2 linked regions of the Homo sapiens genome follow. The protein of the gene in region 1 purifies or fractionates together with the protein of each later gene. This does not show direct contact. Each region holds a gene or a part of one and is shown in the gene's direction. Other genes may lie near its edges.

The links.
Region 2: the proteins of SH2D1A (region 1) and CD84 purify together in Homo sapiens (affinity purification with western blotting; 4 studies listed by BioGRID and IntAct, with this or other methods). This does not show direct contact.

The regions. Positions count from the first base shown.
Region 1 is NC_000023.11:124,348,333-124,360,851, forward strand, and holds part of SH2D1A (SH2 domain-containing protein 1A), read left to right. Parts: intron 1-12,519.
Region 2 is NC_000001.11:160,565,859-160,578,377, reverse strand, and holds part of CD84 (SLAM family member 5 isoform 2 precursor), read left to right. Parts: intron 1-7,244; exon of another isoform or gene 7,245-7,439; intron 7,440-12,519. UniProt on the Homo sapiens protein: Self-ligand receptor of the signaling lymphocytic activation molecule (SLAM) family.

The DNA.
Region 1 (12,519 bases):
AGGAGATAACATGCTCCTTAACCCAAAGGTGAAAAAGAATGTACAAAACAAGTCTGGGCAGGGGAGGGACAACAGGGTATAGTGAGAGGCAAGATATACCTAAGGCTTCAGCCTCACGGGGCTCCTGGCCGTTTCTCAAGCTCCTCAAAAATGCCCCCACTTAGGATTTCTGCGCTTATTGTTCCTTCTGCCCAAAATACCTTCAGTTCACATGTTTGTTCAACTGTCTCCTCCCTCAGAGAGGACTTGCTTGACCACCTATCTAGAACAAGTGCCCTCTCCCTGTCCCTGATACACTCACTCCATCTCTTTATTTTTCTTCAAAGAGCTTTAAACTATCTGATAATTTGCTTGTTTACCTACTTATTGCTGGGCTGTCCTGCAAAAATATAATCTCCATGAGGGCGGAGATACTGTCTCCATCACCAGAAACACAGGAACACATAATAGGCACTCAGCAGATATTTTTGAATTAACAAACTGTCAAGGCAAATTCTGTTCTTTACTGCAATAAACGGAATGGCCATTGAGAGGTTAGGGTATGGACTCTGGGAAAGTCACTCAAATTCTCTGGGACTCAGTTTCCATATTTATAAAACAGGAATAGTAATGTGTATCCTACCTTCTGCAAAAGATTGCCTTAAGTACCTTATGCAAGAGAGAAGGGCAGCTTTAGACTTTTGCCTATGTAGGCCGGAACCACATGAGGAATTAACTTAGGCAGGTGAGAAATTATCAAGCATTTAAGTTTTCGCCCAAAGTGAATCTTGCATAAATGCAGTTTTTATGACTCTTAGTTCTCCATGAAAACCTCCTTGTGAAGTAGCGGAAAATACTAGACAAATTGGGAGTTCCCTTACGGTGTCTTTCAAATGGTACACTGGGGCCTCAAAGTCTTATGTGACTGTTAGGGTGATAGCCAGAATGTGCTGCAGAGGGAAGATATGAGGATACATTGCCTTTTATCAGTTTCTCAATGTTTTTGAGTTGAGTGTCCCTTTTGATAAATGTAAAAATTTCATTCCCTCTTTTTGGTGCTACACTGTAATTATAAAATCAGATTTTATTTAGAAATAAACCACGTACTCATTTTAAACCAGAACACTTATGATATGCAGTCGAAATAACAATATAAGTGGTATCATATACACATGGACAACAAGGTATAGCTGACAAACATGCATTGATTGTAGGGTTTACTCAGAATGGTTTCTCATTCTATCTTTTGTTTACTCCTATTAACCAAGAAGATTTAATTGAGCTATAGTTTTTATATTTTTATTGTAGAGATAATACATTTCATATGCCTTCAAACTGTACTTTAAACTGTACTTTCAAACGATGCTTGCCCTTTTCCCCAGTTCTGAACCTCCTAATCATGGCTTTCAGATATGGCCTTTTCTTCTGTTCTGATTTAGAAAATCGAAAATTGAACTGCTTCATAAAGCACTAAAGGAGTTTTCCATTTATAGGATTGCTCACCTTCATTTTAAGTAATAAGTATTTCTTTCAATTACTTTCTCTAAATAAATATAGATTTTTGTATAAGTCTATTAAAAATAGTTCCTTATACCTATTCATTATAGAAAATTTGAAACATATAGATAATAGAAATTAGAGAAAAATCATCTATAGTTTTATAACCTAAAGATGACTATTGCTAAAAATTAGGTGAATTTTCTTCTATATTTTAATAAGATGAATTGCTTTTTGAGCACGTGTGCTCTTACAATTGTATTCTTACGAGTGACGTATTTGACTACTAAAAAGTTTGATTTTTGTATGCGTCAAAAAAAGTAAGGGCAAACACCAAATGTTATATATTTATATATATATAAATATCTAATATATATAATATATAAATATATAATATAAAATATATAATATATAAATATATATTATATAATATTATATAATATATAATATATAAATATATATTATATATAATATTATATAATATATAATATATAAATATATATTATATATAATATTATATAATATATAATATATAAATATATATTATATATAATATTATATAATATATAATATATAAATATATATTATATACTATATATAATATATAAATATATATTATATACTATATATAATATATAAATATATATTATATACTATATATAATATATAAATATATATTATATACTATATATAATATATAAATATATATTATATACTATATATAATATATAATATATACTATATTATATATAGTATATTATATACTATATTATATAGTATAATATAGAATATATTATATATTGTATATAAGATAATATATTATATATTGTATATAAGATATAATATATTATATATTGTATATAAGATATAATATATTATATATTGTATATAAGATAATATATTATATATTGTATATAAGATATAATATATTATATATTGTATATAAGATATAATATATTATATATTGTATATAAGATATAATATATTATATATTGTATATAAGATATAATATATTATATATTGTATATAAGATATAATATATTATATATTGTATATAAGATATAATATATTATATATTGTATATAAGATATAATATATTATATATTGTATATAAGATATATTATATATTGTATATAAGATATAATATATTATATATTGTATATAAGATATAATATATTATATATATATTATAAATATGTATATTTTTATATATTATTATAAATATATATATTTTATATATATTATTATAAATATATATTTTTATATATATTATTATAAATATATATTTATATATATTTATATATAAATTTACATGTGTTAAAAATATGATTGTGTTCTTGTATTCTTACAATTGTATACGTTTCCCATTTCCCACTTAATATGAAAAAAATACACTCATATGTAATGTTCTTAGAGACAACTTTAAGATGTTATTTTTAATGGCTGCATGGTAGTCCAGCTAGCTAGTAAGTATACCATATTTTGCTTAGCCAGTCACCTACTTTTAGACATTTGACTCATTCCATATTTTTGTTATTATAAATTCCATCAGGATGTATATTTCAGTACATTAAAGTTTCCTTGCATTTATGATTATTTCCTTAGAATGAATTTCCAGTGTGGAATTTCTAGGTCAGAAAACATAAACAGCTTAGGATTCTTGATATATACATGATCATGAGATATTTTCCCTAAATGGTTATTCCAATTTACATGCTCACCTGTAATGCATCAGTGTCCATTTCACCACACCCTCACTAGAAGTGGGTATTGTAGTTAAGAAAATTTTCCCTTGACATTTGGCCTGTTATTCTTTATTTTATATTTACACTCTATCTCTTTATTTTCCACATTTTATATTCCTTTGGTTAGTGACTGTCATTTTATATGGTTGTTAAGCTGTTGTATTTCCTCCCATGATTTGGCTTTTTGTGTATTTTTCTCATTTAACCAGTTGAATCATACTTTTTTTAAACACACTCTATGTGTATATATATATATGTGCACTAATCCTTGATCTATTGCAAGGTATCCTTTCGAAGTTTGGTGTTTGCCCTTACTTTTTTGACACATACAAAAATCAAACTTTTTTAACACATTGTAAATTTATATATATACTAATCCTTGATCTGTTGCAAGGTATGTTTTCTAAGTTTGGTGTTTGCCCTTACTTTTTTTGACACATACAAAAATCAAACTTTTTAGTAGTCAAATACGTCACTCGTTTTCTTTGTGTTTGATTTCTTCCTTGGCTAGAAAGTCCTTTCCCCTTGAGATATGTCATAAAACTTCACTGCAGTTTTTGTTTTAAATTACGGTTTTGTTAGTTTACATTTACCTCTTTAATTCCATTTGGAGTTGTATTTTGATGTGGATAAAAGATCTAATTTGATTTTGTTTCCAGATAGCTAGCAATTGTCCTAATATAATTTATAAATACAACTTCCATTCTTCATTGATTTGCTAGCCGACTTTACCATATATTAAATTCTTATATATAACAGTTACTGTTTCTGGACTATCTATTTGTCTCAATTGATCCATTTATTCTTGCACTGATAGCACTATAGTATGATAATGTTTTAATATATTTTAAAAATTATTTGCTATTCTTATCTGTTGGTTCTTCAAAATGAAATCTAGAATCATTTTATTAAGTTAAAAAAAATTCATTGGACCAAATGTTTTAGCTCTCACATGCCAGTGAGAACACATGATATTTGTCTTTCTGTGCCTGGCTTATTTCACTTCACATAATGACTTCCAGTTCTATTTACATTTCTGCAAATAACAGGATTTCATTCTTTTTAATGGCCAGATAGTATTCAATTGTATATGCATAGCACATTTTCTTTATCCATTCATCTGTTGCTGGACTCTTCTATATCTTGGCTACTGTAAATAGTACTGTGATAAATGTATGGGCGCAAGTATCCCTTTGATATATTGATTTCCTTTCCTTTTGATAGATACCCTGTAGTGGGATTCCTCAATCATATGGAGATAGAGAGTAAAATGATAGTTACCAGAGGTTGGGAAGGGTGGAAGGCGATGAAGAGAGGTTGGCTAATGGGTACAAACAGACAGTTAGATAGAAGAAATAGGTTCTAGTGTTCAGTCGCACAGTACGGTGACTATAGTTAACAATATCTTATGTATTTTGAAATAGCTAGAAGAGAGTACTTGAAATGTTCTTACATATAGAAATGATAAATGTTTGAGGTGATAAATATCCTAAATATTCAAATCCCCTGATTTGATTATTACAATGCATACATGTGTTGAAACATCACACTGTACCCCATGAATATGTACAATTATTATGTATCAAAAATTTTTTTGAAAACACCATTGGGGTTACATTAAATTTATTAATAAACTAAGAATGAATTGTCATCTTTAAATAATTTAGTCTTCCCTTCCCATAACATAAGTCTCTCCATTTATAATTTTTTTGTTTATATCCATCAATCAAGTTTTATAGTTTTCTTTTTGTATGTCTTATACATTTTTTGTTATTTCGAGTTATTGTGTGTATGAATGTGTATGCTGATTTTTAAAAATCATAAATGGGATCTGTTTCCACTATATTTTCTGTTTCATAGGAAAGCTACTGATTTTATGTTCTGTTCTTGTATTTATCCAGTGTACTGAATGCTCTTATTAATGCAGATAGTTTTTTTTTTAAGTTTATTCCCTTTGTTTTTTTTAGATACATCAAGTTTCTTTTCACTGAGGTACATATGTTCTCTCACATTTCTTCCCTTCTCACCCTCAATGTAGACAGCCATTGGGAAAGTTCTGACTGCCCAGTGGGATTGATGGTGATAAGACGAGAACTAATTTAAAATATTTAAAATAATTAGCTCAAAAAATAGTTTATTTCCATAGTTGGCATCCTTCTGGACATATCTGCCTTTGTTTGCTACTTATCTGATGGAAGATTTGGAAGAAGAAATGCTGTTATAATTCTTTAGCTTCAAGGACACATAATGAAGTCATTTGACATGTATGTCTTTAGATAAATGCATAATTATCTTTTTGTCCTTTAAGTTTTAAAGGGACAACTGGGAATAAAGTGCCTGTCAAACAACTGAACTGGAGAAATGGGGGAGGAGCAGTGATGAAATAAAATTCCAGTTTATCAGTTGCAATAAAGGGGAACAGTGTGGCAAAGAACTTGAAATTATAACTTAACTTCATTTAGTGAGAAATTACAACTTGCATTTAGTTTTTGAATTCAATTGGATATGTGCCTTGGTGCCACATTTATCTTCATGATAACTTAGGCCACCAACATTATTTTCAATTTCCTGAATACAATCCAGTGGTAAAGTGAGCCTGAAAGCCAGCCTAGGATTGTTTGCCACATATAAACCACCGAATGGATAATTCACGGCAAATAAGCCAAGTACTGACTCTGGTTGACAATGTAAAATTAAAGTTGCAAGATTAGCCTGAAGATGTCATTTAGCTTAAGCAAAGGGGGAGTCTGGGTTGATCTCTTTCGGGCTCTCCCCACCTGGCCTCTTCCCTTCAGCTCCCTCCACTGCCCTCCTTCTCTCAGTGGACAGTTCTAGCTCCATGTCCAAGCAGATTCCCTCCCTTTTTGAGAATTGTGCTTTTGGAATTGTCTTAAAGACCAATTTGTTAATACATTCCCTCTAGTATAAGAGAGGGGCAGCACAGAATGGTGGTTAAGAGCCCAGATCTTCCAGCCAGATCTCTGGGTGTGCATCCCAGCTCTGACCCTTAACTAGCTATTTTCCCTTGGGCAGGTTACTTTAACTTTCTGTGTCTCAGGTTTCTTACCTGTAAAACGGCAGATGGTGATAATGAGAGTACTTACCTCACAGGGTTGTTATGATGATTATGACATGAGTTAATATTTGTAAAGTTAACATGTAATATGTGTTTTTTAATATGAATAAAAGCTCTATAAATAATTGTAATACAAAGTTAGAACATCATAAGTATACGTAAATAAAACTTGATATGGAAGTTCAGGGGAAGAAGTGGTTATATTTATTTTCATGACTCATCAAAATATCACATAGTTTTACCATCACACTTGAAGTTGAATGACTTTCAACTGTTTCAAAAATTAAAATTCTCTCTGAAAGAATAAAGTTTGGGCCATTGTAAGTTTGGAAAGCTCTTGAATCAGAGTATAGTCTCAAAAATAATGGCTTTGTGTAGGATACTATTCCTCTGGATATAAAAGTTCTGAAACGTTTGTTAAAAATCATTATAGTTGTGTCTTGAATTTTGTATGTAGCATTAGTTCGTATAGACGTAGAGGGCATAGGTACTGGCTTGCTTTATTTGAAATGTCATGAAGAAGTCAGATGTAGCTAAATGTTTTCTTTTGTGTAGTACTTGACGTGGTATAAAAAAGGAATTGATGTGGATTTGTCAGTTCTAAACCAGGATCTGTCCCCAACACTGACCCACTGAGAAAATAAGAAATAAGTCAGGTTGGTTGCTTCTTGCTTCTTGTCCATTTCTAACCTGGACACTTTTTTACAGTTAGGGACAACTTTTGATGAAATAAAGACAAATTTCAATATCAGCAGAGACTAGATTAACACATGCTTTATAGTAATTAAAATAAATTAAAGGCAATGATAAAACTCCACCGTTCTTTAACAATTATTCATGTTCTGATTTTTTTGGTGATACATTTTAAACTCTAGGATTATCAAAAAGTCCAAAAAAGCTTTAATGAGGGAAGGAAGTTAAAAGTACACTACATTGCTGGTTTGTCTGTATTAAGGGAGGGAGTCAGAGGAAATATAATCCTGAAGGGGATGTAACAATTTAAAAAAATGAATTACATTTTTATGAGTTGTGATTTGCTTAGGCTAGGTTTGTAAGGCTCCAAATTGTAATTCTGCTTGTTTTTCTTAAAAAATTAGTCACTTAAATAACTACATGAAAAAATAACATGCAAGAATGCATTTACGTTAGTTTAAATTTACTTCTAGTTTATATACACACAGGGACAGACAGTTTTGAATAGTTGTAATCAGAGTGGCATCCCCTTGTGCCCACTTTTTACACATACTGTCATTTTATTTTTTTATTTTTATTTTTTGTTTTGTGTGTGTTTTTTTTAATACTTTAAGTTCTAGGGTACATGTGCACAACGTGCAGGTTTGTTACATATGTATACATGTGCCATGTTGGTGTGCTGCACCCATTAACTCATCATTTACATTAGGTATATCTCCTAATGCTATCCCTCCCCCCACCCCAGGACAGGCCCCAGTGTGTGATGTTCCCCTTCCTGTGTCCAAGTGTTCTAATTGTTCAATTCCCACCTATGAGTGAGAACATGCAGTGTTTGGTTTTCTGTCCTTGCGATAGTTTGCTGAGAATGATCGTTTCCAGCTTCATCCATGTCCCTACAAAGGACATGAACTCATCCTTTTTTATGGCTGCATAGTATTCCATGGTGTATATGTGCCACATTTTCTTAATCCAGTCTATCATTGATGGACATTTGGGTTGGTTCCAAGTCTTTGCTATTACACATGCTATCATTTTATGTCAACATAGTCCACATACTTAAAGTTTTCTGGAAAACCTAAGACTCTAACATTTTTGAATTTTGGCATAAGATTTTATTTGTTTATTTATTTATTTATATTTTTTGAGACGGAGTCTCTCTCTGTCGCCCAGCCTGGAGTGCAGTGGTGTGATCTCAGCTCACTGCAACCCCTGCCTTCCAGGCTCAAGCGATTCTCCTGCCTCAGCCTCCTGTGTGGCTGGGATTACAGGTGCGTGCCACCACACCCAGCAGTTTTTTGTTTGTTTGTTTTGTATTTTTAGTAGAGACAGGGTTTCACCATGTTGGCCAGGCTGGTCTCGAACTCCTGACCTTGTGATCCACCCACTTCAGCCTCCCAGAGTGCTGGGATTACAGGCGTGAGCCATCGTGCCCAGCCAGCATTAACATTGTAAACCTTCACCTTTGACATAGAAAGTGTAATTTTGAACCATTGTTTCTGCTATAATTCCTTTATTTTTCCCTAATTTATATATTTATTTCTAAACTGGCAAAATTGTATATATGTATTGTGTATGACATGATGCTTTGAAATATGTATACATGTGTAATAGCTAAATTGGGATAATTAGCATATGCATTACCTCACATACTTACATTTTGTGATGAGAACACTTAAAATCTACTCTCTTAGCAACTTTCAAGAATACAATACATTGTTTTTAACTATAGTTGCCACGTTGTACAATAGATCTCTTGAACTTTTTCCTCCTAACCTAAATCTTTTATCCTTTGACCCAAATTTCCCAATCCCCACCCTGCACGCCCCTACGAGCCCCTGGTAGCCACCCACCATTCTACTCTTGGCTTGTATTAGTTCAACTTTTTAAGATCCCATGTATAACTGAAACTACGCGGTATTTGTTTCTCTGCGCATAGCTTATTTCACTTTACAAACTGTCCTCCATATTCATCCATGTTGTTGCAAATGACAAGATTTCCTTTGTGTTTAAGGCTGAATAGTATTCCATTGTGTATATACAACATATTTTCTTTATCCATTCATCTGTTGATAGACATGTAGGTTGATTGCATTATGTCTTGGCTATTGTGAATAATGCTGCAATATACATGAAAGTGCAGATTTCTCCTTGACATGATGATTTCATTTCCTTTTGATATATACCCAGCAGTGGGATTGCTGGATCATATGGTGGTTCTATCTTTAATTTTTTGAAGAACTTTCATACCGTTTTTTATAATGGCTGTACTAATTTATATTCCCACCAACAGTGTGCAAGGGTTCCCTTCTCTCTGCATCCTCTCTTGTTGTCTTGTTTTTGATAATAACCATCCTAACAGGTGTGAAATGATATCTCATTGTGGTTTCATTTGCATTTTTCTGATGATTAGTGAGGTTGAGCATTTTTTCACATACCTGTTGGTCATTTGTATATTTTCTTTTGAGAAATGTCTATTCTGGTCCTTTGCCCATTTTTATTTTATTTTATTTTTTTTGCAATGGTGTCTCGGTCTGTCGCCCAGGCTGGAGTGCAGTGGCGCGATCTTGGCTCGCTGCAAACTCCACCTCCCAGGTTCATGCCATTCTCCTGCCTCAGACTCCCGAGTAGCTGCCTTTGCCCATTTTTAAATGGGATTATTTGTTTTCTTTCTATTGAGTAATTTGAGTCTCTTATATATTTTGGATATTAACTCCTTATCATATGTATGGTTTGCAAATATATTCTCCCATTCTGTAGGTTGTCTCTTCACTCTGTTGTTTCCTTTGCTGTTCAGAAGCTTTTTAGTTTGTTGTAATCCCATTTATCTATTTCTGCTTTTGATGTCTGTGCTTTTGGGGTTATACCCAAAAACAATTCCCTTATTTTGAGCAATTATTCCTTATTTAGGGGTGCTTAGGTTAGTTCCATTTTTTTCACTATTAAAATAGGGCTAGTATGAAAATCTTTGTCAAATTGCGTTTTCCTCTTGACTTGTTTCCTTGGAGTGTATGAAGATAAGCAAGGTTATGCAGTCAAAAATATGTATGGTTTTATAGGTCTCGTTATATAACTTGCCAGTTTGAATAGCGATTTTCCATGGACAGGGACAGAGTATGTTTTGTTTGAAAAGGCATATTCAATATTTTAGTTTAATTTTATGTTACAAAATTACTGGTTTATAATAGAAGCTATAGAAAATAAAACTAAGAAATATTATTGGGGAAGAAAGGAAAAAATGGTTCAGAAACACTGTCCTGTGAAGACTGAAATGATTGACAAACCTTCAGCTTATACTAAAATAAAATTGCATTCTTAAAGCATAGACTGAATGACTACGGAGGAGGTGGCACAGAACTGCCCTGGGCAGGTGGAAGAAGCCAGGTTGACAACAGGGAAGTTGCCATCAATATTCCCAATGAGATGTGGGCATTCGCTTTACATTTTAATCAGTCCTTCTGTAACTTTAATGTTCATACAAATCACCTGGGCATCTTACTAAAATCCAGATTCTGATTTAACAGGTCTGGGTGGGGCCTGGAAGTCTACATTTCTAACAAGCTCCCAGGTGATGTTGATGCTGTTGTCCTGGGAATGCAATTTGAGTTGCACTGTTTTAGATCTCTTCCTTGTATGACATATTATAGTAAGAGTTGACTACAGGGGATCCTTGGTCAGTTACTTCAGTAACTTGAAAGTGAAAGATATAAACTGCTGGCCTATTTGAGGGGTGAAACAATTTTGCTCATTCAGAAATTGGAGGGGTTGTGGGGAGAAGGAAATTGTTAATATTAGATGAGTTAATCATGAGAAGTTTTATGTACCATTCACACCAGGTTGTTCAGAGACTGAAGGAGGTACGAAGTTTTGAAGTGGTACTCAGGTTCCTGCTACTTAACTGAAAGTGAGATAAGATCAGATTCGTTAGGAAACAATTCTCAAAACAGACTCATTTACTTTGACTAAATGCGTCTGAATGATAGTAGGGAGATAGAGTCATTGTATTTTTTAGAGACCCACTGTTTTAGAAAGTGGAAAACTTGTTGCTTACCATTCTGCTTATCTTGTTGCTGAGATTTTAAATAATGAATCTCCACATCACCCTTATGATACTGAATTATTGCCATTAATCATTTCTCATAGGGAAAATGGAACTAAGAACCTATGCTGTTTCACTGCTTCCATCTCCATTTTGCTATGTGGCTTTAAGAAAATCACTTAAAGGCTTATGTTGAGTTCCCATGGTGAAAAATGGAAATCAAAGCTCTTGCCTTGTTCCCCATAGAGTACTTGCTGAAGTTAGTGGGCTTTGAGGTAGATTTCAAGTGTTTAAAAAGACAAAAGACTTTAACATTGTAATATTGTATATTTATTCAGCATATTATATATAGGCATATATCAAGCTATTTTATATATGATCTAAATATTCTGGCAATCCTTCGTAAAAAATAAAACATCATATAATCCACATCAGTAGTTAAATTGACCTTTTGTTCAGTGTCACGAATCAAGTAAATCTGAATAGTGTGTTTCAGATTTGTTTTGGCCCTTTAGGTAATCAGTTCTGATGCATATTGATGAAAGATATAGTAATTTTTTTTTTTAGATGGAGTCTCACTCTTGTCGCCCAGGCTGGAGTGCAATGGTGCGATCTCAGCGCACCGTAACCTCTACCTCCTAGGTTCAAGTGATTCTCCTGCTCCAGCCTCCCGAGTAGCTGGGATTACAGGTGCCCACCACCACGCTAGGCTAATTTTTGTATTTTTAGTAGAAATGGGGTTTCACCATGTTGGCCAGGCTAGTCTCGAACTCCTGACCTCAGGTGATCTGCCCACCTCAGCCACCCAAAGTGCTGGGATTACAGGCGTGAGCCTAATTTAATTCACATATTTAAATACTTTTATTTCCAAAGGAGGTTAATGGTAAATGTGATCATCAAGTCAAGCATGACACTCTGCTTGTAAACACATTGATTTTAACCAGAGTTCAGTGCATGTCCTGGCTAGGTGTGGTGGCTCACACCTGTAATCCTACTACTTTGGGAGGCCTAGGTGGGAGGATAGCTTGAGGCCAGGAGTTCAAGACCGTCGTGGTCAACAGAGCAAGACCCTGTCTCTGCAAAAACTAAAAAAAAAAAAAAAAAAAAAAAAAAATTAGCTAGGCACAGCAGTGTGCAACTGTAGTGGCAGCTACTCAGGAGGCTAAGGCAGGAGGGCAAGGCTGCAGTAAGCTATGATCACCCTACTGTACTCCAGCCTGGGTGACAGAGCAAGACACCATTAAAAAAAAAAAAAAAAAAAAAAAAGCATGTGTCCTAACCAAAAGATCTCTATTGACCCAAACTTGTGCCCAAGAATAGCAATCAGAAAATTTATGAAATGAATGATTTAGATTCACATTCAATTGATTCACAATTGATTTTGATTCACATTCAAAAACTGAAACAATTCATTATAAAGTTTACCTTACTGTTTTATGAGGTAAAATTTTATTAGGCAAATTAAGTAGGATTACTATATATACTAAAATATA
Region 2 (12,519 bases), on another chromosome or scaffold:
GCCTCTGCTGGTCGCTCTAGAATGGCAGACAGAAAATGCAAGTAGATGAGGAATGGTACTAGGGATGTCCCTAATCTTCCAGAGAGAGACCAGACAAGGTAGCATTTGATACCACTTAATTTGCAAAACATTCTACAATGTTTATGCCTACATTCTTATGTCATCCATATGAAAACCATTGAGATGAGCAAGATAGACGTTATTAATCCCATTATGCAAGAAAAATAATAAATTAAGATTTAGGGGTTTAAAAATTCACCTGAAATTTCACTACCTAAATTGGTAGAGCTGGAAATAGACATTGGTTTTTCTAATTCCAAGGTTAATCCCAATCCCATTGGTTCTTCTTTCTGCTCCACCTGACCTCTTCACTCATTGCTTTCAAATTTTTGATGCTCTTCAAAAGGTTAATACCTGCTAAGATAAAAGGTAGCTCTAGGATACACTTCTTTCATCTACTGAAACTGAAATAAAGTTGTCAAATCAGCTAGTAGTGAATTGTTTACAAGTTTTGTGACCTAGACGAAGTTACATTCCTCCTCTGACTCTTGTTTCAGCTTCAAAATGGGGAGGTATTAATACAGTAGAATTGTTTTGAGAATCAAAATGATGATAATGCATGTACAACACTTGCCATGGTACCTGAATATAGTAAGTGTTTAACAGATATCAGCTAATGCTACTATTTTTCACACTCGCTTTTCATTCATTATTAGGAAGAGCCATGGCTTTACCACACAGAGATCCTGGGCAGGACTCCTCTGTCAGGGAATTGTCCAAGGAACATAAACAGGAGAAAAGGTGGTGGGAGTTTGAGCTTAGGTGTTGGTTGTCTGGGTTCTGGAAAAGGAAACTAGGAGTGAGATATTCATTTCATCAAGGATCCATGAAAGGGGAATGGGAGCTTGTTTTTATAAAAGTGAAGCCAGGAGTACTTTTTACATACTGTCCACCTTTACTGAATTATCTGTTTGCCTCTTAAGGATTATTCTGCAAACCTTTTCTGAGCACAAAAATATACCATGAATTCCTCCTGCTGCTGTTCCTGGTAGAGGTAGTCCCTTACATTCAGTATTGGGCTTAGGAGTCTACACTTTACACATTTCCCTGGAATTCAGAGCAGTTGAAGAGGCTGAGAAGCAGTGGAGAGATGCAGGGAGAAATCCCCATTTCCCCTCAGAAATCACCGACATAAGGAAAGTCTGAGTGTGCAAACTTATGACTGTTCCATGTTGGAAAAGTTTTCTCTGAGTCAAAATTCACAGTCTTATGCTCTGATGCCAACTTTCTGATCATGACTTTGGAAACACCATGACTCTGACTGTCTCTCCACATACCCTGGGAGACACTCCCACTCTGAGGGTAGGAGATGAAGGAGTCCACCAGTTTTAATCCTTGCCCACCCCCTCTACATATACTGTCTCATACTCTTAATTCTTCCTTTTCTCTGCCCCATTCGTATTTCTATTTCTTCAACTCCCTGTCTTATCTCCCATCAATAATAGTAATAAGTAACCATTTATGGAGCAATCACTGCATATTCAGCATTACTCTAAGTAGTCTACAGTTATTATTTTGTTTAATCCTTACAATACACTATGAGATAGATACGGTTTATGTGCACATATACAGATGAAAGCATTGATACACAGAGAGTCAAAGGCCACTTAACCAAAAAGTGAAAGAAGTAGAATTTAAGCTTCAGAGTCCTTAGACTTCACCTCTGAGTCATGCTGCCTCCACCCACATTGATGCTGAAGTGGAGTAAATTACTCTCCCTACTATTAATGTTTGGGAATATGTCAGTAAAGAGTGATGATTTATTTATTTCTGTCAAGACAGGATTATTCGGATAGAATCTGTGCCTTTCTCTATACCCACCCACAGAGGAGGAAGGAGCTGTTGGCAGGTCCTTGCCAATAACGGAAGTTTAGGCAGGGCAGTGAGGCAGAATACCCAAGCAAACAACCATCTCCAGACATATTTCAAATACCGTTCACTTTAATATTATTCAAATGTGATTTGAATTAGTTTCTTTAAACAAATAAAAGTCCAATATCAGCATGATGTTGATGTCTTGTTGGATGTTAAACATGGTCATGGGCATTTCAGCAGTTGAGACCTAAAATTCTAAGAAATGAGTGGGCTCACTATGGGTAACTGGACCCCAACCATCATCCTGGGGCTCAGAGACAGGAAGCATACCTGTGGAAGTATGCTGACAAAACAACCTGCCACTGATCTGAAGTCCTTGCATTGAGGGGTCTTCAAGATAAGGACAAGGCCTCTGTATTAGAATGAGATTTAAGCAGATGACTACCACAGACATTCAGAAAAGGGCTCAAAAGCAGAAATCCAGTTATAGAAATGGAAATATATTACATATGGGTAAAACTGCTTATCAAAAACCCAGCTTCCAAACAGAGGGTGGAAAGCTGTTCCCCCTGTGATAACTCAGGCCTTCAGTGGAAGGCAGCGGAGGCCTACCTTGTCAGCTCCAAGTGCTTGAAGCAGTCCTGGAGATCAATATGGAGGCCAACAAGGCAGCCAGAGCACCTTCGCAACAGGAGCCTGATGGTCGGTGCCAAGCCATTCAGGCTACTGGAGTATTCCTAAATCAAACCTTTCTTGTCTTGGACCTTAGGAAAGGGATGGACCTGTAAGTTTGGAGATCACTGGGCTCATCTATGTGAAACTTGGAAAGAGGTATGAGCAATCAGCTGGGGGCTGATATAGGTGGAACTGACTAGGTACTCTTGTTTCCTTTGTTATACTCAGTGTTCAAGTACACGCTAATAGAGGGCAGCAATGTTAAAACGGATGGCTATGATCTCATGTCTGTTTTGAGATTTTGTGTGTGTGTGTGTGTGTGTGTGTGTGTGTTTTGAAGGAACTGATTCAAGTAAACCTAAATCCCAATAAAGGTGATATAAAGTAAAACTCCCAGGGGAAAACAATGTACTATTGCATGGGGGTAGTAGGTTCCTTTTTCTTAAAACCTCATGATCAAGGACTTTCCGTCGCTTTGGAGAATGACACAAAATTTCTGCCTGCCCAGCCCTGTGCTTCCTCTTCCCCTCTATGTCCCTTCACTCAGTGTGAGCAGTTATAATGGACTCTCTTTTGGGCACCACATGCTAAAGCTACCTCTGGTCACTCTCCCAGACCTACAATACTCAGCGATGTTCCACCCCCACTTTTTGACTCTAGGAGGCAGTGGGTGGAGAAGAGGAGAGGAAGTTTAGCTAGTGCCACAAAAAAAGAACAAGAAATGTTTGTCTGGAGGATCCTAAGAAAGTAAGGGGGTGGAGGTGTCTGTTAAGCAACTGTGCAGTCTTCCCCATTTCCACTCTTATTAATAGCTACTTGCTGACTTTAACATCTCCCCAATACCCCAACTCTAATTTTTCCCTTCGTAGTTGTCTGAGGTGTTATTTTAGTCTCTTTGAAGATGTTTATTTGTTTTACATAGCAAACATATATAGTGCCTAGTATATGCCAGGCACTATTCTAAGAGGTCTACAAATATCAATTCATTTAACCCTCATAATATTTTTATGAGGTCAAATATTGTGCTACTATTACCTTCACCAATGTGCTAATATTACCTTCATTTTAAAGCTGAGGAAACTGAGGCACAGAGAGGTTACTGACTTTCCCTGGGGTTCATGGCCAGTCCCTGACAGAGCCAGGATTCTAGCCCAGGCAGGCTAGGCCTCAGTGACTAACCCATGGTGACATACAGGTGATTCCACAAGGCAAGGCTCTCCTTAGGACCACTAGACTCTCCTCCATTAGTACACACACTTGAGAGCACCCTCATGTCATTTAATCCTAATAATTCCTCAAAGTGGCAGGACAGCTCTGTTTTATTTCTTTTACCAACTAGAACCCTCTGACTTAGCAAGTAAGTGACATTCATGGTCATTTAGCTAGTCAACAACAGACCCTAGACTCAAACATGTTTCCTAATCCCTGATTCAGGACACTTTTACTAACTATGCTGTGGGTCCCCATTTTGTGGATCTAAAAAATTTTCTTCACAAACAGTATAGAATATAGAAAGAAATTGCAGTTAGCCATCTGATTCTTGTTAATAATCAGTTTAAATACTTGACCTTTCACATCAAGACCCAGAGATCAGTAAAGAGTCCTCTCTTGCCTTCACTCTTTCTCTTGCTGAGATTTTCTGCCTTGTTTTTCTATTGTTGGAAAAGATTAATTGAGTCAGTTGCAAAAAAAAAAAAAGCTTTGTTTTTTTTTGTTTGTTTTTGTTTTTTGTTTTGAGACAGAGTCTTGCCCTGTCACCCAGGCTGGAGGGCAGTAGCACAATCGTGGTTCATGGCAGCCTTGACTTCCCAGGCTCAAGTGATCCTCCTGTCTCAGCCTCCCAAGTAGCTGAGACTACAGGCATGCATTACCATGCCTGACTAATTTTTTTTTATTTTCTTTTTCATAGAGATGGGATCTCATTGTGTTTCCCAGGCTGGTGTTCATTTTTTCAACAAACATTTAATAATCATCCACTAGTTCTTGGAGGAACAGTAGTGATTGAAACAGACAAAGACTCACATTCTTGATAATTGCATTATAGTAGCAGTGTATTGAGGGGATGGGTTGGGAGACAATCAATAAATAAGCACAGGCAATGCTTTAGTGGTGATAACTGCAGTGAAGAGAAGGATAGTAAGGCAAGGCAAGAGAGAAGGATGGGGTGGGGATTGCTGTTTTAGGCACAGTGACCAGGAAAGCTCTTTCTAATGAGATGATGTTGGGAGAAAACCCTGAACAAAGTGGGGGACTGCTGAAAAGAGTGTGGTAGGAAAAGAGGAGAACAACAGGTGCAAAAGCTCTAAGGCAAAGTGCCCTTGGCCTGTTTACAGAACAGAGGGAGCTGATGTGGTTGGAGTAGGGAAGTAGGGGAAGATCAGGCAGAGCCTAGTAGTGATGGTTAAGATTATGAAAGGAGAATAGAGAGCTCCCCAGACTCCAAGGGTACACTGTGTTCATTTTTAATAGAATCTAAGGAGAATTATGGGGTTTTAGGTCTATATAACCTCTCCATTGTCATCCATATTTGACTTTGGATTCCACCCAAAACATCAGTAAGTTTTGCTTGCCCAGCCTTGAAGAATTTTCCTCTCATGAGTTAAAAGCCTCATACCTCAACAATCTTTATACAATCTATATATATGGGTTTCTGATTCTTTTCTATTTGTTTTTTGTTTTTTCAAATATTCTTCTTTTTCTCACGATCCCTATTGTCTTCTTCTAGTCAGTGGCTTTGAGCTGCCTAACCATGAAATGTACATTTGTAAAATCCATCCATATCCCTAGGATCATCCAGGGAAACAGGGTTATCATCTTAGACACAGAAAGGTGTATTGCATTGGGAAGGGTGCCCCAGCCCAATCCAGGAGGGGAAGGCAACCTCCAGTGAGCAACCAGTCCTCAGTGATCTCTTTCAACACTGGTCATCCTGCTCCCTGAGTCCTGGGCTCCCTCTTTGCCATAGCTACCTAAGAGTCACAGTGAACAGGTTTTTCCATCTAAGCCTGCACCCCAGGGTTTCAGCCTTTTCTTGCCTTTGCTTCTCCTCTAGAGGTATGGCCTTTCTCCTACCTTTCCCATTTGTGTTCTGGCATAAGAAGGTCACGAAATCACACTCTTTGGAAAAGGTTGTAAATGTGGGTTACCACTTCTTCACTGGGCTCTCAAGGGTAGTTAGCAAACACTTGATCCCCTTCATCAATCTCTTGTTGACTCCCTATGGTGTTCCTTATAGTAACATTCCCCCCCCCAATTTTTACATTCACCAAAATAATAGCAACTACCATTTATATGTGCCAGGCATTGTGCTAAGTGCTTTATCTTCGCAATTGCATTTAATAATTATCCACACTTTACAGATGAGGCACCTGAGGAACAGTGAATTTCAATAATTTTCTCAAGATAACACAGCTACGTTCAAATATTCCTAGATTCAAAATCTGCACCTTTAGTCTGTATACCTCCTAGCTGGTCCCACTCTTGCCTCCTCACTGTTGCCAGTTAGTCTCCCCTCCTACATTACTGAAGAGATGAAGGCCACCAAGAATGACTATCTTCCATTTTATCCTATCTATTCCAAAATGTCCACTGTGTATTAAGCACCTTCTATGTGTCCTCAAAACAATTCTATAAGGCAGGCATTATTATAGCCCATCTTGTAGTCAAGTAAGATCAGGGCCTCAGCAAATGTCAGGGATTGAACATGAGCACAAGCCCACCTGGCTCAAATCTATGCTCACTCTACTTCACCAAGCAGCCTCTTCCTATCACCGTCTTTAATAACATCTCAAAATACCTTTGCTCTTTCACTTATCCTTTCCTTTCCCCTTTCCACTTCAGGTGAGGGTGTGACCCTCCTTAAATCTACAGCTTCCACTGCCTGCCCTTTCCTTTCCATCTTTTGTTCCATGACAAGCATTAGTAGCCTGTGTATCTTGTGCTGTTCTGCATACCAGAGGTTTAAGGCAAGGCCCCTGGACTCAGTCATTCACAGTGTCCAGAACACAGACACGCAGATTGATGACCACCACACAATGTGGCAAGTGCTATGAGAGGGAAACCTGGAGTTCCAGAGAGGCCATGAGCAGGAGCATCTAACCTAGAGCAGGCCCACTGGGGACATCTCTCTCTGCTTACCCTCCCTAGCTCCTCCCCCCCAGCCCCCAGTCTCTTCTATTTTAAAACAAAAATAAATTAGTTTCACCTGACCTTCTAGCTACTGTCCTATCTCATCACCCTTCTTTCACTGTCAAGTTTTTCCTCCATGCTTTACCACCTACTCTGTCAGTCCCCTAGACTCTGGCCTTCCATCGAGTTGTCTTACTTGTACTACATTCTCAAAGGCCATCAATAACCTCGTAACGGGCAAACCCAGGGCCATTTTCAGTCTTTATCCCGTTGAACGCTGAATCATTAGACATCAGTGGCAATCTCCTCCTTGAGACTCTTTCTCCTCTCTGTGATATGGCCCACTATTGGTGCCTCTCTTGCACTCTTACTGCTTGGTCTCTTCTGTTTCTTTTGATGGTGTCTCTTCTATAAATGTGAGCACTCTCGCAGGGCTCAGTCGTGGACTTCAGGCTTACTCTTCCTGAATGACCCTCCTCTCCTTCACCCACGCCATTTCTGTGGATGATCTCTAAACCCGCTGGATTTCAGTGTTACAGTAAGTACCAGAGACACTAAAATAAGAATGGCTTAAACAAGAAAGAGGTTTATTTCTTGCTCATGTAAAAAAGTGCGGAGTTGGCAGTTCACAGTCAGTAGAATAGTTCACAAGGTCATTGGGGTTCCAACTTCTATCTTCCTGCTCCACCATCCTCAGAACTTGGCTTCCTCCTCATGACTCAGAATGTCTGTCTAAGATCCAGCTGTCATGACCTTCTGGCCTGCAAAAGCAAGGAAGAGATGAAAACAGCAAATTTCCCTCTTTTTATGTATTTATTTATTTATTGGTTTTCTTCTGAGACAGGGTCTCACTCTGTCACCCAGGCTGGAGTGCAGTGGTGTGGTCTTGGCTTACTGCAACCTTGACCCCCTTGGGCTCAGGTGATCCTCTCATCTCAGCCTCCTGGGCAGCTGGGACTACAGGTGTGCACCATCATGCCCAGGTATATTTTGTACTTTTTTGTAGAGACAGGGTTTTGCCATGTTACCCAGGCTGGTCTCGCACTCCTGGACTCAAGCGATCCACCTGCCTTGGCCTCCCAAAGTGTTGGGATTACAGATGTGAGCCACCATGCCAGGTTCCCACTCTTCTTAAAGACACAGAAGTCATATACAACACTTCCATTTTTATTCTGTTGGGCTGAACTTAGTCATATGACCAACGTTAGCTAGAAGAAAGCAGGACAATATAGTCTTTACTCTGGGTGGCTCTATGCCCTGCTAAAAATTAGTGATTCTATTAATAAGAATGAAGGAGGGAACAAATATTGGAAAACAGCTAGCAGATTCTGCCACAGTGCCCCAAATAATACTTCAAGTCCATTCTCTCTCCTTATCTTCCATCATTCCAAGAGCTTACTTACATGGTCCACCATCATCTGAAGTTTAATATTTCTAACACTAAACTTTCTTCCCCCTTTGACTTCTTTCCATCATAAACTTTATGAGTTTTTCAATGACATAAAGTAGAAACTCAAAATATATTGATGAACAATTGAATTCTAGCAGATGCCTCTTTATTTCTTGCCTTTCTTTGTGTTATCATCAAATCCAGCCCTTCCTTTCCATTCCCATTATCGTCCCCTGGTTCATGCCCAGAAGACTACAGTATCCCTAAATGGCCTCTCTGATGCAGCCTCTCCTTCCTGTTTTCCTCCCCACACATCATTACTACATTACAATGACTAAAACATTATTTTAATCTTCACTCGCAAAAACCTTAATAGTTCCCCTCTGCCTCTGATGGAGACCTCAAACTCAAGGCTGTCTCAAATCTAAACCTAATTTGTATCTCCAGCTGTACCTCTCCCCACTCTGATATGCAAATCTATATTCATCCAATTAACATCACAGGTTCTGCTTCTAAACTTTTGTTCAGGATCCGAGGACTTGAGACACCCCTCCTTTCCCTTTCCATCAAGTAGAATTCTATTCAGCCTTCAAAATCCTCCTCAAATTCTACTTTCTTTGAGATGTTTTTTCTAACCACTACAGCTCAGCAATCCCTCCCTTCTTAGAATTCCTACCGTAATCACTGTTTCTACCATTCACTTGAATTTATTATTCACTATCTCATATTGCAAAGGAGAATTGTGTGTGTGCGTGCGTGCGTGCGTGCGTGTGTGTGTGTGTGTGTGTGTGTATCTTATTTCCCTAACCGGGTATCAAATTCCCCCCGAAAGGCAGAGAATCTGTCTTTGCCATAGACTAGCATAGTGCATTTCATGGTAAGTCCTCAAGATGTTTTTGTGCCACAAGTTATCTCTGAAATTAGATTTTACTAAGGTCACTTCCAGTGATAACATAATGTTAGAGTCCCTTTAGCACCCAGAAAAATAAATATTGGGATTGATTGATATGGACACTCTTTCTTTTAAATCTTAAAATCTTTTAAGAGCAGAATAAAGTCTATCCAGGGTACCTGAAACTGTCCCTCCAGGCTTTACTTGAATTAGCCCTTAAAAATGGCTTTTGATATATGCTCCAGTATGGCCCCGGCATCACCAACGCCATCATAAGGGTGGCCTAGGGCAGGCCCAAAGGGCATGTACCAATTGTTGAAGTGATGATAAAGAACATACGATGAATGTTAATATATCAGTATCAACTCCAGAAATAACTAACATTTATTTTACCTTGATGATCAGCAAAGCATTTCTACTCATATTACATCATTTGCTGCTCACCAAACAGGACAAATAGCATAATTATTATTTTCATTCTATGGATGAAGAAACTGAGGTTCAGAAAGGTTTTGTGACCTGTAATCCCAGCATTTTGGGAGGCTGAGGCGGGCAGAGCATTTGAGGTCAGGAGTTCAAGATCAGCCTGGCCAACATGGTGAAACCCCGTCTCTACTAAAAATACAAAAACTAGCTAGCCGTGATGGCATGCACCTGTAATCCCAGCTACTTGGGTGGCTGAGGCAGGAGAACTGCCTGAACCCGGGAGGTGGAGGTTGCAGTGAGCCAAGATCACTCCACTGCACTCCAGCGTGGGTGACAGTGAGAGAGTGAGACTTTGTCTAAAAATAAATAAATAAATAAGAAAGGTTTTGTGACCTCGTTAAGGTTGTCCAGTTCATAAGTAGAAGTACTTGCACCTACACCTTCTGCCTCCCTATCTTTCCACTGCATGCAATGGTTTTGCAGCTGCTTCTCTCAGAGCACAGTTGGAGTGTTTGAAGGTGGCAGAATCTTCATCTTAAACATGTGCAACCCCTTTGCCTTTTCCAGCAAGCAAAGTATTCTTGCCAACAACACCAGCAGCACAAATAACAGCTTCCCCCAGCTTTGCCTACCCACCACCCCCACTGCCTGATTGCTCTTTGATACCCCACCAACACTTCCTGAATGACTTGCTACAGGAGATGAGACATACTTTTAAAACTGCACCACACACCAACCACTGTGGCTGCTCAACGGCCCTAATATTAAGAAGGTCTCAGCCTTAACAATCTACCTACATACTTCCTGGGGTTTAGTGAGAGAACCCAGCAAAATTACGAGTCTGTGGAATCTATGTTCTGTCTCTCTCCTCACACCTAATCTCAATCCACAGAGTGGTGTGGCAATTAAGCACTAGGGCCTGACTTCAAAAAAGACTTGAGACGTGGGAGATCTGAGACCAGGACTGGCTAGATAATTTGCGAGGCCCAGTGCAAAACGAAAATGGAGGGCCCCTTGTTTAAATAGTATGTAGAATTTAAAGGTGGCAACGCAGCCTTAAGTCCAGTTCAGGGTCCTTTTGAATTCAGGGTTCTGTGCAACTGCATAGATCACATGCCCATGCCTGGACCATCCAGGGATTCACGCTGGGACACTCCAAATACCCCTCTCCTAGAACCCGTCAGCCCAGAAAAACAGTTTATCTGGGAAGAATTAATGTTCTTAAATTTTGGCAAACTATGACTCTTACCACCAAAGGCAGCATTAGCCTCTTTCTGACCCGCTACCCCAATGGCTTATTTCTATTGCTTTTACCATTTAGCACTCATCGTGTTGTATTGTCTTTCACTTGTGACCACATCTGTCTTATTTTCTAGGCTGTGAGCTCCTCAGGGCTGCAACGATGTCCTGTTTATCCCTGTGTCCCTAACACAGCATCTGACACATAATTAGCAGTTAATAAATGTTTGCAGATAAGGGTTCCCAATTTCCCCCTTCCTACTCCCACTCCACATACTCCCCACCCTGTTGTATCTTCTGTACTTAGCCAACCCCCAACTAAATCCTCAGGCCTTGTCCCGGATACTGCTCCTACGGGAAAATCTCTGTTGGTCAGAAAGGAAAGAGCTTTACATCAGCTGTTCCTGGGGCTCTTTCAGTGGTTGCTGAGCTGAAGAGCAAGGGTAGCCATAGTGAGACAACACCATCAGGTTAAGAAATCGCTTTTTTTGTGCCACTTTCAAGGGACGTGTATACTTTATGATCCTTATTCTTCCGTATACCAAGCCTTGGATAAACTTTAGGGTCAACCTGAACCCACTTATGTGGAAAACTGATGTCTGGTCATCAGAGCCTACATGCAACCAGTACACACCAGAACCGCTCAACTAGTTTGTTTATGGCTAACACCCTTTCTGATTGGTCAAGGCCCACGTCATATTGGTTATTAAATACTTTGGATATCATCTATGCTTGCCCCAAACAGTGTTTCTCACTAAAGAGCCCTCATTGAGAATTATAGGATAATGAAGAAGAGGAGGAGAAAGAGCAGAAAAATAATGTCTTGAAGTTACATTGTCTCTCATTTTACAAACTATATATTAAATCAGTTTATCTTCAAAAGTGATAGAGGAGAGAAAAGGGAGGAGAAAATAAGCTTTTCATCTTCCCATGTTACATTTTAAAAGTATTCATCCTTAAGTTTTCACTAGGAAATGTTCCCTCGATTCCCAGAACAGATCAAGTCCCCTTGCTGGTCTCTCTCAAATCACCATAATGCTTACATATTTTGTGCCTATCCATTTGTTTCTATGGTTATCTGATCAACATTGGTATCTTCCTCTGATTGTAAGTCTCAAAGAGCAAGAATTATATCTGTTTCTTCTCGCCGTTGTATCCTCAGCTCCTCGTATCTTGTTTAAAAGAGTAGATGTCCAACAAACACTTACATTATAAATTAAATTAACAAATACCCACCATAGTATCTGGAGCAAAACTGATCCTGAATAAATACATGCAACCATTCACAAATGTATGAATGAATAAACGAAACTTGCTTACTTCAGAAGTTGTTCCAAGAGAGTCTAGGAAACTCATGAGTAAATTCTATCAATTAATTCCACAAATATTTATTAAGCCCCTTCTCTGTGTTAGGCACTCTTCTAGAGACTAGGAATATGGAAGTAAACAGAAAAATATCCCTAAAAATCACCAACTTAGGGAATATTTTCTCCAGAGACTCCAAAGCACTCTCTGCTTCTATCTTCCAAGAAAAGAGACAAAAGTGTTACTTGCTTTTTACAGAGATCACAGGAAAATAAAAAGCAATGACCCAAGAGTCCATCAGCCAAGATATTCCAGGTTCTTGTTCTAGCTCTTCCACCACTTGGCAATATGATCTTGGGAAAGAAGTGCACCTAATATCTTAGACTACGTGGAGGCTTATGGCCTTCACCTCTCAAATGCCTTCTAGCTTTCAGAGTCTGTAAGTCTAGGTAAAAATATTTTTAACAAAATGGATCTCTAGTGAGAAACTTAGTTTTTGAATGAGAATGCGTTAGAAAATTTAGTTGTCATAACATATTAAATACACCTAGAGTAGAATGCCAAAAAAAAAAAAAGGCATCCTCAAGAA